Linked DNA regions of Homo sapiens. The protein of the gene in region 1 interacts with the protein of each later gene in a pairwise test. Each region holds a gene or a part of one and is shown on either strand. Other genes may lie near its edges. The genes, in order: PTF1A, TRIP12 and RBPJ.

The links.
Region 2: the proteins of PTF1A (region 1) and TRIP12 interact in a two-hybrid assay, tested with the Homo sapiens proteins (one study listed by BioGRID).
Region 3: the proteins of PTF1A (region 1) and RBPJ interact in a two-hybrid assay, tested with the Homo sapiens proteins (one study listed by BioGRID).

Annotation. Positions count from the first base shown.
Region 1 is NC_000010.11:23,190,955-23,194,828, reverse strand, and holds PTF1A (pancreas transcription factor 1 subunit alpha), read right to left. Parts: upstream 2,518-3,874; 5' UTR 2,299-2,517; coding exon 1,515-2,298; intron 1,126-1,514; coding exon 923-1,125; 3' UTR 584-922; downstream 1-583. UniProt on the Homo sapiens protein: Transcription factor implicated in the cell fate determination in various organs. Binds to the E-box consensus sequence 5'-CANNTG-3'. Plays a role in early and late pancreas development and differentiation.
Region 2 is NC_000002.12:229,768,510-229,772,160, forward strand, and holds part of TRIP12 (E3 ubiquitin-protein ligase TRIP12), read right to left. Parts: intron 3,124-3,651; coding exon 3,010-3,123; intron 817-3,009; coding exon 722-816; intron 211-721; coding exon 107-210; intron 1-106. UniProt on the Homo sapiens protein: E3 ubiquitin-protein ligase involved in ubiquitin fusion degradation (UFD) pathway and regulation of DNA repair.
Region 3 is NC_000004.12:26,428,863-26,432,218, forward strand, and holds part of RBPJ (recombining binding protein suppressor of hairless), read left to right. Parts: intron 1-1,035; coding exon 1,036-1,191; intron 1,192-1,556; coding exon 1,557-1,660; intron 1,661-1,829; coding exon 1,830-2,145; 3' UTR 2,146-3,356. UniProt on the Homo sapiens protein: Transcriptional regulator that plays a central role in Notch signaling, a signaling pathway involved in cell-cell communication that regulates a broad spectrum of cell-fate determinations.

The DNA.
Region 1 (3,874 bases):
TGTTGAGTGGCCTCCGAGTGGTCTCTAGGCTTTGGCACCGTAGCCTGTCCCATCTCCTTTGTGAGGAGTAAGCCTGAGTTCCAGGTACCTGATGCTGTTGCTGCCGAAGAGGTTGGTCACAGGGCAGCTCAAGAGTAGCCCCTTTCCCAGCCAGTGGAAGCAGAAAGGCCCATTCGCTTAGCCCACTAGCTCCCTGCTCCCACAGTGCACCGCGCGCTCACTTTTATACACCAGGAATAGACAACGTAGGGGTGACCTTGGGTAAGTCAAATGTCATCTCTGAGCCTTAACTTTACCATCTGCAAAATGGGAACAATAAATACTCCAGGATGTATTTGCATAGGGTGTTTGGAAGGTGGCCCAAAATACAGACAAAAGTTGCTGTGTAGGGCAGGCGACCTAGATGAAGTGCTGTCATAGAAAGTTGAGGTCTAATCCTCTAACCTACCCACCTTTAGGCTAAGTCTGAAATGTAGTTTCTTACTAAAAAGCTACACTTTGAGTCTCTGGTTTGGTTAATTTTTACTAAGTTAATTCTTTTTAAAGAGTATCTATCAAATCATGTACTCAAAAACCTTCAGGAAAAGGTGTAAATAGCATTTATTGACAACGCTTAGAAATAAACCATATCTGGCAATAAATAAGCAGGACGTTTTCTGGCCAGAGTTCTCCCAACAACACAGAGTTCAGGAAAATCATAGGCTATTGCATATTTTCAGAAAATCAGGATAAGTTATATAAATTATATATTTAAAAAGAAATCATCTATTTCATCAACTCAACAGGATAATAAATAGATAAATAATAAACAGTTGATTGCCATTCGAAAAATTTGATTCTTAAATTACATTTACATTATAGATATTTACATGTACAATATGCACAGAGACATAATCAGATCTTCAGCCGAGTCTGGGACTTCTCAGGACACAAACTCAAATGGTGGTTCGTTTTCTATGTTGTTGAAGGAAGATTTGCTGTTGAGTTTTCTGGGGTCCTCTGGGGTCCAGACTTTGGCTGTTCGGATAATATTTTGTTCCTTGAGTTGTTTTTCATCAGTCCATGAGAGAGAGTGTCCTGCTAGGGGAGGGAGGCCATAATCAGGGTCGCTGGGGGAGGGGGACCCTGGACAGGTGAGAAGAGAAAACAGACTGTGAATATCCAACCACATTCCCATTGGTCCCATCAGGTCCTTTAGGACCCTTTCCTGGGTGCTCTCCGGTTATACTAGAACCACCCTCTTCCTCCACACTTCAAGTCCCCACCGTCCCCTCCCAGGAATCCGAGGAGCTGCAAGTCTGGCGGGGACGCGCGCCCTTGAGAGCCGCGGTCAACGTGGCAGAAAAATAAAAAAAAAAAAAAAAACGAGAAACGCGAGCTCGCATTCAAGTTTTTCCGTGCCCACCGACAATCCGTCGGTCCGACTGTCTGCTTGGCAGTCAGCTCCCCCAGCCCCTCCGGAGCCTTCGAGTGCCCGACCCCTTCTCCCTGAGCTGGGAAGCGGAAGCACTTACGGGTGCCCCGATGGCAGATGATGACCTTCTGGGCCTGGCTGCCCGGGCTGTCCCCGCCCAGGCGCCCGCCGCCGCCCGGCCCCCCGCAGCCGCCCGCGCCACCGCCGCGCAAGGGCAGGTCGGCCTGCACGAGCTCGCTGAGGAAGTTGATGTAGCCGATGGCCAGGCGCAGCGTGTCCACCTTGGAGAGGCGCTTCTCGTAGGGCAGCGTGGGGATGTGCGAGCGCAGCCCCTCGAAGGCGTCGTTGATGGACTGCATGCGCCGCCGCTCGCGCACGTTGGCCGCCTGCCGCAGCTGCTGCAGCTCCGCCTCGGAGCGCACCCGCCGCCGGCGCCGCGCCGCCGCAGCCGCCGCTCCGCTCAGGCCGCGCAGCCGCGCCCCGGGAGACAGTACTGCCGCCCCGGCGCACGGGTAGGCCAGGCACGAGGGCGGCGAGCCGGGCGAGTAGGGGAAGCCGCCTGGGGGCGCCCCCGTCTCGCAGCAGTAGCCGCCGCCGCCGCCGTCGTCTGGCTCACCGAGGCCCCCCGAGGACGGCGGGGCGAGCGCTAGCGGGGCGGCCGGGGGCGCGGGCTGCAGCAGCAGGCACGCCCCGTCGCGGTAGCAGTACTCGTGGAGCTGGTGGCTAAGGAACTCCACCTCGGCCTGCTCGTCCGCCAGCAGCTCATCGCCGTCCTCCAGGGGGTCCCGTGAAGACTGGTCGGTGAAGAAGTCGTCCTCGTCGAAGTACGAAGAAGGAAAGGCGTCTAGGCCCCCGGGGAAGTGCTCCAGCAACACCGCGTCCATGCTCGCCGCCGCAGTGGGCAGCGGGACTGCCGGGCTGCGCGTGTTAGTTCTTGGTGAGTTTCTAAGGCCCGTCCGAGCCCCTCCCTCCCGGGGCCCTGGCTGGGGGCAGCTAGGCGGCCGCCGGGCTGCCCGCCCCCGGGCCTCCCTGGAGTGCCCGCGGCCGCTGCGCTCTGGCCCGCGCTCGCGCTGCGCTGGGGAGGGCTGTGGCGGACTTCCTGGAGCTGAGGGCCGGCACGCGAGGATTCTTATAACAACATCCATAGGCGCGTGCCAGGGACCCATCGCGCCAGCCAATCAGAGCGCGGTGTGCCGGCGGCGAGGGGGCCCGGAGGCGCGGCGGTGGGCGGGGGTGGGGGGCGTTTTGCTCCCTTTGGGAGCTCCTGGGGCGAGGAAAAGGCGGGGTCGCGCGGCCCGGGGCTCCTCGCACCGCTCTCTTCCCTCTCCTCTGCCTCTGCATACTGGATTCTGTACCTGCCCCGCGTGCGGCTCCAGGGGCACCTGCGTCCCGCGGTGCCCGCTGCGTACCCGCGCGCGCTGAGCAGCGCCGGCTCCTTCCGCCCTGGGACTGGGGCAGCCGCGCGCCGCGTCTACACGCGGCCAGAGAAGTTCCTAGGGGTGCGCGCCGGTGGCCCAGACGGCGAGAGCGGAGCCCGCGCGGCGATCGTCCTCCTCCGCGGCAGCCTGGGCAATCTAAGGGTGCTGCCCTCAGGGACCAGGTGGGTGCATTCCGCCACCCCCTTATCCGAGGTGCGCGGGGCTCCGGCCTGGGTTCTGCTGGGGGCTTCTGTCCCATCTCTGGACTTTTCAAGGGCTTTTGCACAGTTTGCAGAGTATATGCGGGTGTCATTGGAAGGTGATCCGGGCCCACTCCCACTGCGTTCCAGACGCAACACGGGGGCTGGGAGCGCACCTATGGGACTCCGCTCTGGAGCCTGGCTGTGGTGCCTGGTGCGGGTCCCCAGCGACATCGGCTCAGTGGCTGCCTCCCCTGCCCTCCCCGGCCCGGAGAAAGGAATGGGGAGACGGGAGGGGCAGCCCCCAGAGCAGCTCAGCGGGGCGCGTTTCTTCTGAGAGCAAATCTAGACCCTAGGGATTCTGAGCAATAAACTGGATACAAAAGGAGTCCATTGAATCGTCTGCTCCGGCGCAGTCCGGAGGGAAGGCATTGAAGTTAAAGGGCAGAATGTGAATCGTTTTCAAAGCCCGAGTCTCTCACCTTTCCGACTGGCCACAGGGACCATCCCTGAATGACTTGTTTTTTTCTTTCTCGACCTTTCTTTTCTGAAAAAAAAAAAAAACACAAAACGTATGCAGCTCTGCCCCAAGACAGACTTTATCACAGACTGCGATGCAACGTGAATTCCTCTTTTTAAGAGCAACAAAGAAACACTTTCAAGGTCTGGGCAATTCCGGTTAAAAGCCAGGCTGCAGCTTCCACCCCGGGAGAGTTCAGAAGCGCAGCCATCGTGCGTATTCTCTCTACAGAGGACTGAAAGGAGTCGTCCTCCTGGGCCGCTTCCTTTTTCAGGCACTTGTCTCACTAGAGGCTTCTGTTGGGTATTCAGACGCCTCTCAA
Region 2 (3,651 bases), on another chromosome or scaffold:
GGCACTGCAAGTGAGATAAAGAATCTCCTGCTGATGGTACTGAAGTTTCACACTCACAAACCCACCCATAGGTAGAATAAATGCTAAACATCAACATCGTACCCACCTCCAACAGGCAATCTTGGGCTACCAGTCACAAACTGGAGAAATAACCTCTGCTGCTCATTATCAAAACTACTGAGAATCTCAAACAAAAACTTCACAGCCCGACTATAACAGAAATAAATATACCAAAATTATTTCATCAGGTTAAAATAGAGTTTTAATCACACTGCATCGCATCACATGACATAAAAATTAGATTAGCACTTTTAAATTACACATACATTTTCCATTACAATGTACTTAAATTCGTTTCTGTTATGACTAGACTAGAATTCAAATGGAATGATTACAGTTGTAATAAGTAAGACTTGATCTGGTACTGTACAGATATTTCTGCTTTACTATATGTAATAATGGGGAACAAGATTAAATCTGTCTTCCCCAACCCCTAGTATTTTCACAGAAATACTTGAGAAAGAAACCCTTGGGTCTTAATTTCCCATCTTCAGAGAAATAAGGCCAAAACAGAAGTAAGCATCCATTAACAGGTAGACACATTTTAAAATGAACCACTCCAACTTTTGTTGTTTACACATGTGCGCATGTGTGTGTACACACACACCCCTCTCCACATTCTTCAGAATCAACAGAAAAACTGGCAGACCCCAGTACTTACCTGTCATGAGTATAACCATGATCAGGCCTACAGCATTCCATCAGTGTCTTTGCATCCCAAGTGTCTGCTTTACTGCCACAAAGGAGCTGATCCAGCTGTGAGTTTAAATAAGGGTAAAAAGAATTACTAAGGAAACATTTGTTTACGTGAGTGAAAATAAAGGTCTACGTGTACCATAAAAGAGTATCAGTCTCAGTACTAAAACCTTCTGCTTGGGACCTCTTTCCAAAAAAAAAAAAATAATAATAAAATAAAATAAAATTTAGAGATTCCATTTCCTTTTTAGCTGTACGCTATTAAGTACCCTGCCCATCTGCAGGGACTTGGTTCCTGAGAAACCCTTCCTCTCAAACCAAAAACACCTGATGACCCTTGATTTCAGTTTTCCTTTCTTCTCATTACTTTAGGTGCTTTAAATGGATAATCTGCTTCTAGTCAGGGAGATTTTATAAATCCTGGCTTTCAGAAACACAAAGGTATACAGTAACAGATGCCAAGGGAGAGAACATTGAGCTGGAGAAAGAAGTGGGAGAAGCAAGCTGAACTAGGACACAGCAAATGGGTAGGTCTTTACACTTTGTAGAGAGGCATGTCTACGCTACATGGTTGGTTGTATGGGGACCAACCCAGATATTATAGAATGAATATTAGAAAGCAATAAATGCTTTCATGTCCTTATACTTTGAGAAAATCCAATTTGAGGCCAATGAAATTTAATATCTATTATATAATGCTCACTGTCTGGTCCTATATATTTAAAGACAAAGCTTTGCTCTGTTGCCCAGGCTGGAGTGTAGTGGCCTAATCACAGCTCACTCCCGTCATGATCTCCTGGGCTCAAGTGATCCTCCAACCTCAGCCTTCCAAGTAGCTGAGACTACAGGTGCATACCACCACGCCCAGCTAATTATTTTTTTTATTTTAGACAAGGTCTCACTATGTTGCCCAGCCTAATCTTAAATTTCCGAGCTCAAGTGATCTTCCCACCTCCATCTCCCAAAGTGCTGGGATTATAGGCTAAGTCACTGTGCCCAGCCTATTTAATTTCCATTACTCTGTGATAGGGGTTATTCCAATTTTACAGATGAAACAGTCCTATCAGATACAGTAACTTGGATAAGGTTATACAGCAAGTGGTGAGGACCATGATTCTATTCCAGGTGACAAGCAGTGCCTACAAGTATCAGGCACACTACATGCTTAAGTAGACACAAATATAACTGAGATTAAGACGTTAAGTTAATCAAAAATTTATAGATTTAATCAGTAGTGAACATACACTCTAAAACTAGTATTCAAACAATAAATAAAAAGGTTTCAAAACTGAGGGAAACTGGACACATTCTAGAGGCTTTCTGTATCTCACTACCAGTGAGTAGTTCTTTTGAGATTTGGCACTTGAAATTAAAGACGGTAATATGGTTTGGCTGTGCCCCTACCCCAAATCTCATCTTGAACTGTAACTCCCACAATTCCCACCTGCTGTGGGAATGACCTGGTGGGAGGTAACTGAATCATGGGGGCAGGTCTTTCCCAGGCTATTCTCATAATAGTGAATATGTCTCACGAGATCTGATGGTTTCAAAAAGGGGAGTTTCCCCGCACAAGCTCTCGTCTTGTCTGCTGCCATGTGAGATGTGCCTTTCACCTTCCACCATGATTGTGAGGCCTCCCCAGCCACGTGGAACTCTAAGTCTAATAAACCTCTTTCTTTTGTAAATTGCCCAGTCTCGGTTATGTCTTTATCAGCAGCATGAAAACAGACTAATACAGGCGGCTAGAGAAAACCAAGCACATAAATCCATTTCTTCCATTCTCAGAAGTATTCTCTGTATTTGGCAATTAGATAATTTATAATACTTTCTTAAAACTTCAAGGACTAACTTTGATTGTGAAACAATGTCTCATCGAAACGAAGTTTAGTTAAGGAATAAAGTCAAGCCCCCTCCATGTCTCTCTTTGCTTCCACAGCAGTACAGAAACATGTAGAACATGCCACACACAGCACAAGTCCCCATTCTCCACTGAATGGCATTGAGGGTCTTGGCTGACAAAGATGCTATGCTTACTGTCACGCGTGGAACCCGCTCCCCAATCTAAGAGGGGACACCTATTTAACATTCTTCCTTGCTCAGGCAATTTCCTTGTCTTTCCCAAACATCCATCCCCTGCTATCTAACACCCATTTTTTTGTTTTTGTGCAACAATACGGTCTTTGACTAGGCAGCACAGAAACACTCCACTAAAATTATAGGTATGACCATTTCTTTTAGATATAAGCTACTCACTTCCTCCGGGTAGAAGTACTGAAGATGACTGAGTGGGAAGACTGATTCAAATCCATCTCTGAACGAATCAAATTGCCTAGAAACGCCTTCATTTAGTGCCCAGAATATAACCAGCTGCAAAAAGAAAGTTTTCAAAAAACTGTGACAAGATTTCAAATCTCTTTACTATTTAATATGTGGCAAAGTACAGTGAAACACCCTTCTGGATCACTTTATAAAGAACAAACAAGTTATTAAGACTTTAAAATAATCTGCTAGAAAACTACATGAGTAAAACATCAGGTCAACATCTAATGTGGGGCCCCTACCAATAACAAAATGTAAAAAAAAAATGCCATGTGCATTTACATTTAGTGTGTTTTAAAAATCTATTTATGTGAAACCCATGCCATACAGTTATATTACCTCACTGGATGGGAATCAAATGAGAATTTCCCAAGAGGATAAAATGTTATTGAGAATTAAAGGTAATGTTTGAAGAATCACAATTAGCCACTATTAAGGGTTTTTAATTTTTAACGTAAAATGTTTAGTTCTAAATCCTGTGAAGTTCTTAGAACCCAACCTGTCTGCAGTGTGTGCTTCCTACTAAAAGTAGGCAAAGCCTGGAAATGAAGTCACATGCAATTGAAGGGTAAGAAA
Region 3 (3,356 bases), on another chromosome or scaffold:
ATGTTTTTAAATTACTGGTGAAATCTAAAATGTACAAACTGTGAGGTTAGCAGCTTGCAAAAATATGAAATTTTCATTTGCTGTTAATTATATACAAATACATGAAGCTATACACAGATATTTATCTCAGGTATGAGCATCCTTAACACACAATCCTCAGACATGCAAGCAATCCTTCCTCAAGGAAGAACTCAAAATTATGAAAATGTTCTCAGAGAAAACAGTTAACATCTAGTTCCAGGGTTCTTAATTGAAGAACAAAGAGCCCCTCAGGATATCCAAAAATAGATTTTCAGTGCTCATTGAATCCTCTGAAATTGTGTGCAAACATTGTATAGACAAAGCATTTTTCTGGGTGAAGGCTCAAAATCTCATCAGATTTATGTCGTGGTTTCCGAAGATAGTAATGATGACATGCTTTGAAAGCTAATGTTTTACATTTACTCAGAAGGCTTTCATGAGGTTATGACATGGGCAGATGATTTAATAAGACAGTTATGGTTTCATGTGAAACTCCTTTGCAGAGAGATGCCCATACACACTGATGGGCATGCTGAGTCCCTGGTCTAGGTGTGTTAAGGTAGGGGTAGGGGCTTTGCCTTCCCATCTTGATTCCCTCCCATGGAACATGCATAAGCTTCTAGCTGTTGCCTAAGCATGAGGAGTCCCATTGTCTTTCTTAGGAGTCCTTGAAGAGTTTTAAACAGCCATTTACATCACAGATATTGATCTGCTGTTAATGAAATTGTACCTGCATTGGTATACTCATAATGGTTGTTCTGAAAGGTATTATTATTTAATATGTCACTGAAATAGTTTGTATTATAAGAAAAACTGCTGTCTATGGGGTTTCTGTATTAGCATTCTGTTTGTGTTTATGTAGGGATTGGCAAAGCACCATACTTTAGAAAGTTTATAAGTTTTTACTGAGTTATCTTCTTATTAACTCTTGTCTGAGGGTTACTTGGTAAAATTTTCTTATCCTATTAATACAAACTGTATAAAACTTAGTTTCTAAACTTCTTTCTTTATTAGGCCACTCCATGTCCAAAAGAACCAAATAAAGAGATGATAAATGATGGCGCTTCCTGGACAATCATTAGCACAGATAAGGCAGAGTATACATTTTATGAGGGAATGGGCCCTGTCCTTGCCCCAGTCACTCCTGTGCCTGTGGTAGAGAGCCTTCAGGTGAGAACGCCTAGTCCAAGTTGGCCTTCAGCTCTTTGCAGCTACTCTCAGCTGTGACCTGGCATCATTTCATTTCATGGGAGTTTTGATTTTTCTCCAATCGTCTGATTAGGGGATTTTTATATACACCATTTGTTGATTTAAAGAAAAAAAAACAAAATTAGGAGGAGCGTACTTGCCAGAAAATTTAAATGTAAATAAACTTGTATGTTATCTTGAAATGTTTTTAGCTAGCTTTGTAATAAAAAACATTTTAATTGCCCTTTTTTAAAAAAAACAAATGAAAGTTGAATGAGAATCTAATTTGTGTACTTTAATGAAAAATGAAAAGTTTTCTCAGTGTTGTGATTTTCTGTGAATTGCAGTTGAATGGCGGTGGGGACGTAGCAATGCTTGAACTTACAGGACAGAATTTCACTCCAAATTTACGAGTGTGGTTTGGGGATGTAGAAGCTGAAACTATGTACAGGTACTTGATAAAACTTTTTGCATCATCCAGAGGTTGTGAGGGGTGTGGGTACAGGAGATTCTTTCCTGGCACTGATTGTAATGTATTAAACAACCTTGTGTTAAGTCTCATTTTTAACATGTACTTTGCTTTTTAAAGTGTTTTTAAGTGATTTCTATTTCCTCCTCAGGTGTGGAGAGAGTATGCTCTGTGTCGTCCCAGACATTTCTGCATTCCGAGAAGGTTGGAGATGGGTCCGGCAACCAGTCCAGGTTCCAGTAACTTTGGTCCGAAATGATGGAATCATTTATTCCACCAGCCTTACCTTTACCTACACACCAGAACCAGGGCCGCGGCCACATTGCAGTGCAGCAGGAGCAATCCTTCGAGCCAATTCAAGCCAGGTGCCCCCTAACGAATCAAACACAAACAGCGAGGGAAGTTACACAAACGCCAGCACAAATTCAACCAGTGTCACATCATCTACAGCCACAGTGGTATCCTAACTACCGTCTTTTTGCTAGGACTTAAACTGACTTGAGTGTGGCAAAAAGTTAACAAAAAAGGAGAAAAAATGAACAATCGTTTGTGGTTTCTTGGGAAAACTTTTCATACCAGGTGATACTATTCAAAAACCCCGTTGTCTCCCTGCAAGTGCTGATTTGAAATGCAGAAGCCACAGTAAAAAAAAAAAAAAAAAAAAAAAAAAAGAAAAAAAAATCAAAATGTATAAATATTGGAAATCAAGTTTTTCAGCTGTTTTGTTGGTTGGTTGGTTGGTTTTTGTTTGGTTTTGTTTAAATGGGCAAGAAGTAAATAATGTGGCTGGAATACAAGTTGAACAAACTAGAAGACACAAATCTAACATAGTTTTTATGGACCAAGGAACTTGTATATTGTATAAGCTTTAGTAAAAGGTACATTTTCACCATACCTTTTTTTATATCACGGTATTATAGTACACCTTGTTACCAAATAGGTTGTTCTCTTCCCCACCCACCTTTGAGCTTTTGCTCTAAAATACATTCAGGTTCCAAGCCTGACCATCCTTGTTTAATCTATCATACTCTTCCAGGTTTTTTTTTTTTGGTCTAAGGCTGGAACTTTTTTCTTTTTTTTCAGCTGAAGTCTTATGACTTTTCATGAGTCAAAATTGTTTGGATTTCAGCAAGTCAAATCTTGCAAAGGCCTGCATATTTTTTTTAAGATTATATGAAGTCTGTGCAAAAGCTTTAAAAAAATGCCTCTGCCTTGCCTGCAATACATGCAATGTATGTTAACTTAGTCTCTCTTCTCAGACACTGTTGGTAGTTATTTCTGTGTTTTCCTTTTTTTAAAAAAAAATATGGACTTATTGTGGTTATCTGAGAGGTTCTAACATTCACATGCAATTTGGTGTGGCCATTTAGCTATTAATGAGTTAATGGCGCAGAACTTGTTGATATTTGAAGTGTTCTCTCCCCTTTTCCCATGACGTAAATACATAGGTGTGTTCCAGGATTTGTTCAGGTTTTTCCCCCCTCCTAATCTTGTACATAACTTGTATTATGTGTAAGTTAAACATTTTATTTTGAACTTGGAATGTTCCCAGTGATTTCATTCAGCAGGGTATTTTCTGCCTTGTTGGCAAGTGACAAAAAATATGGGAAGTATTTGCTACCAGTTGGTAGATGGTGCCCTTAATGGTAGAATGAGGAAAATGTCCGCAAAAGCATGT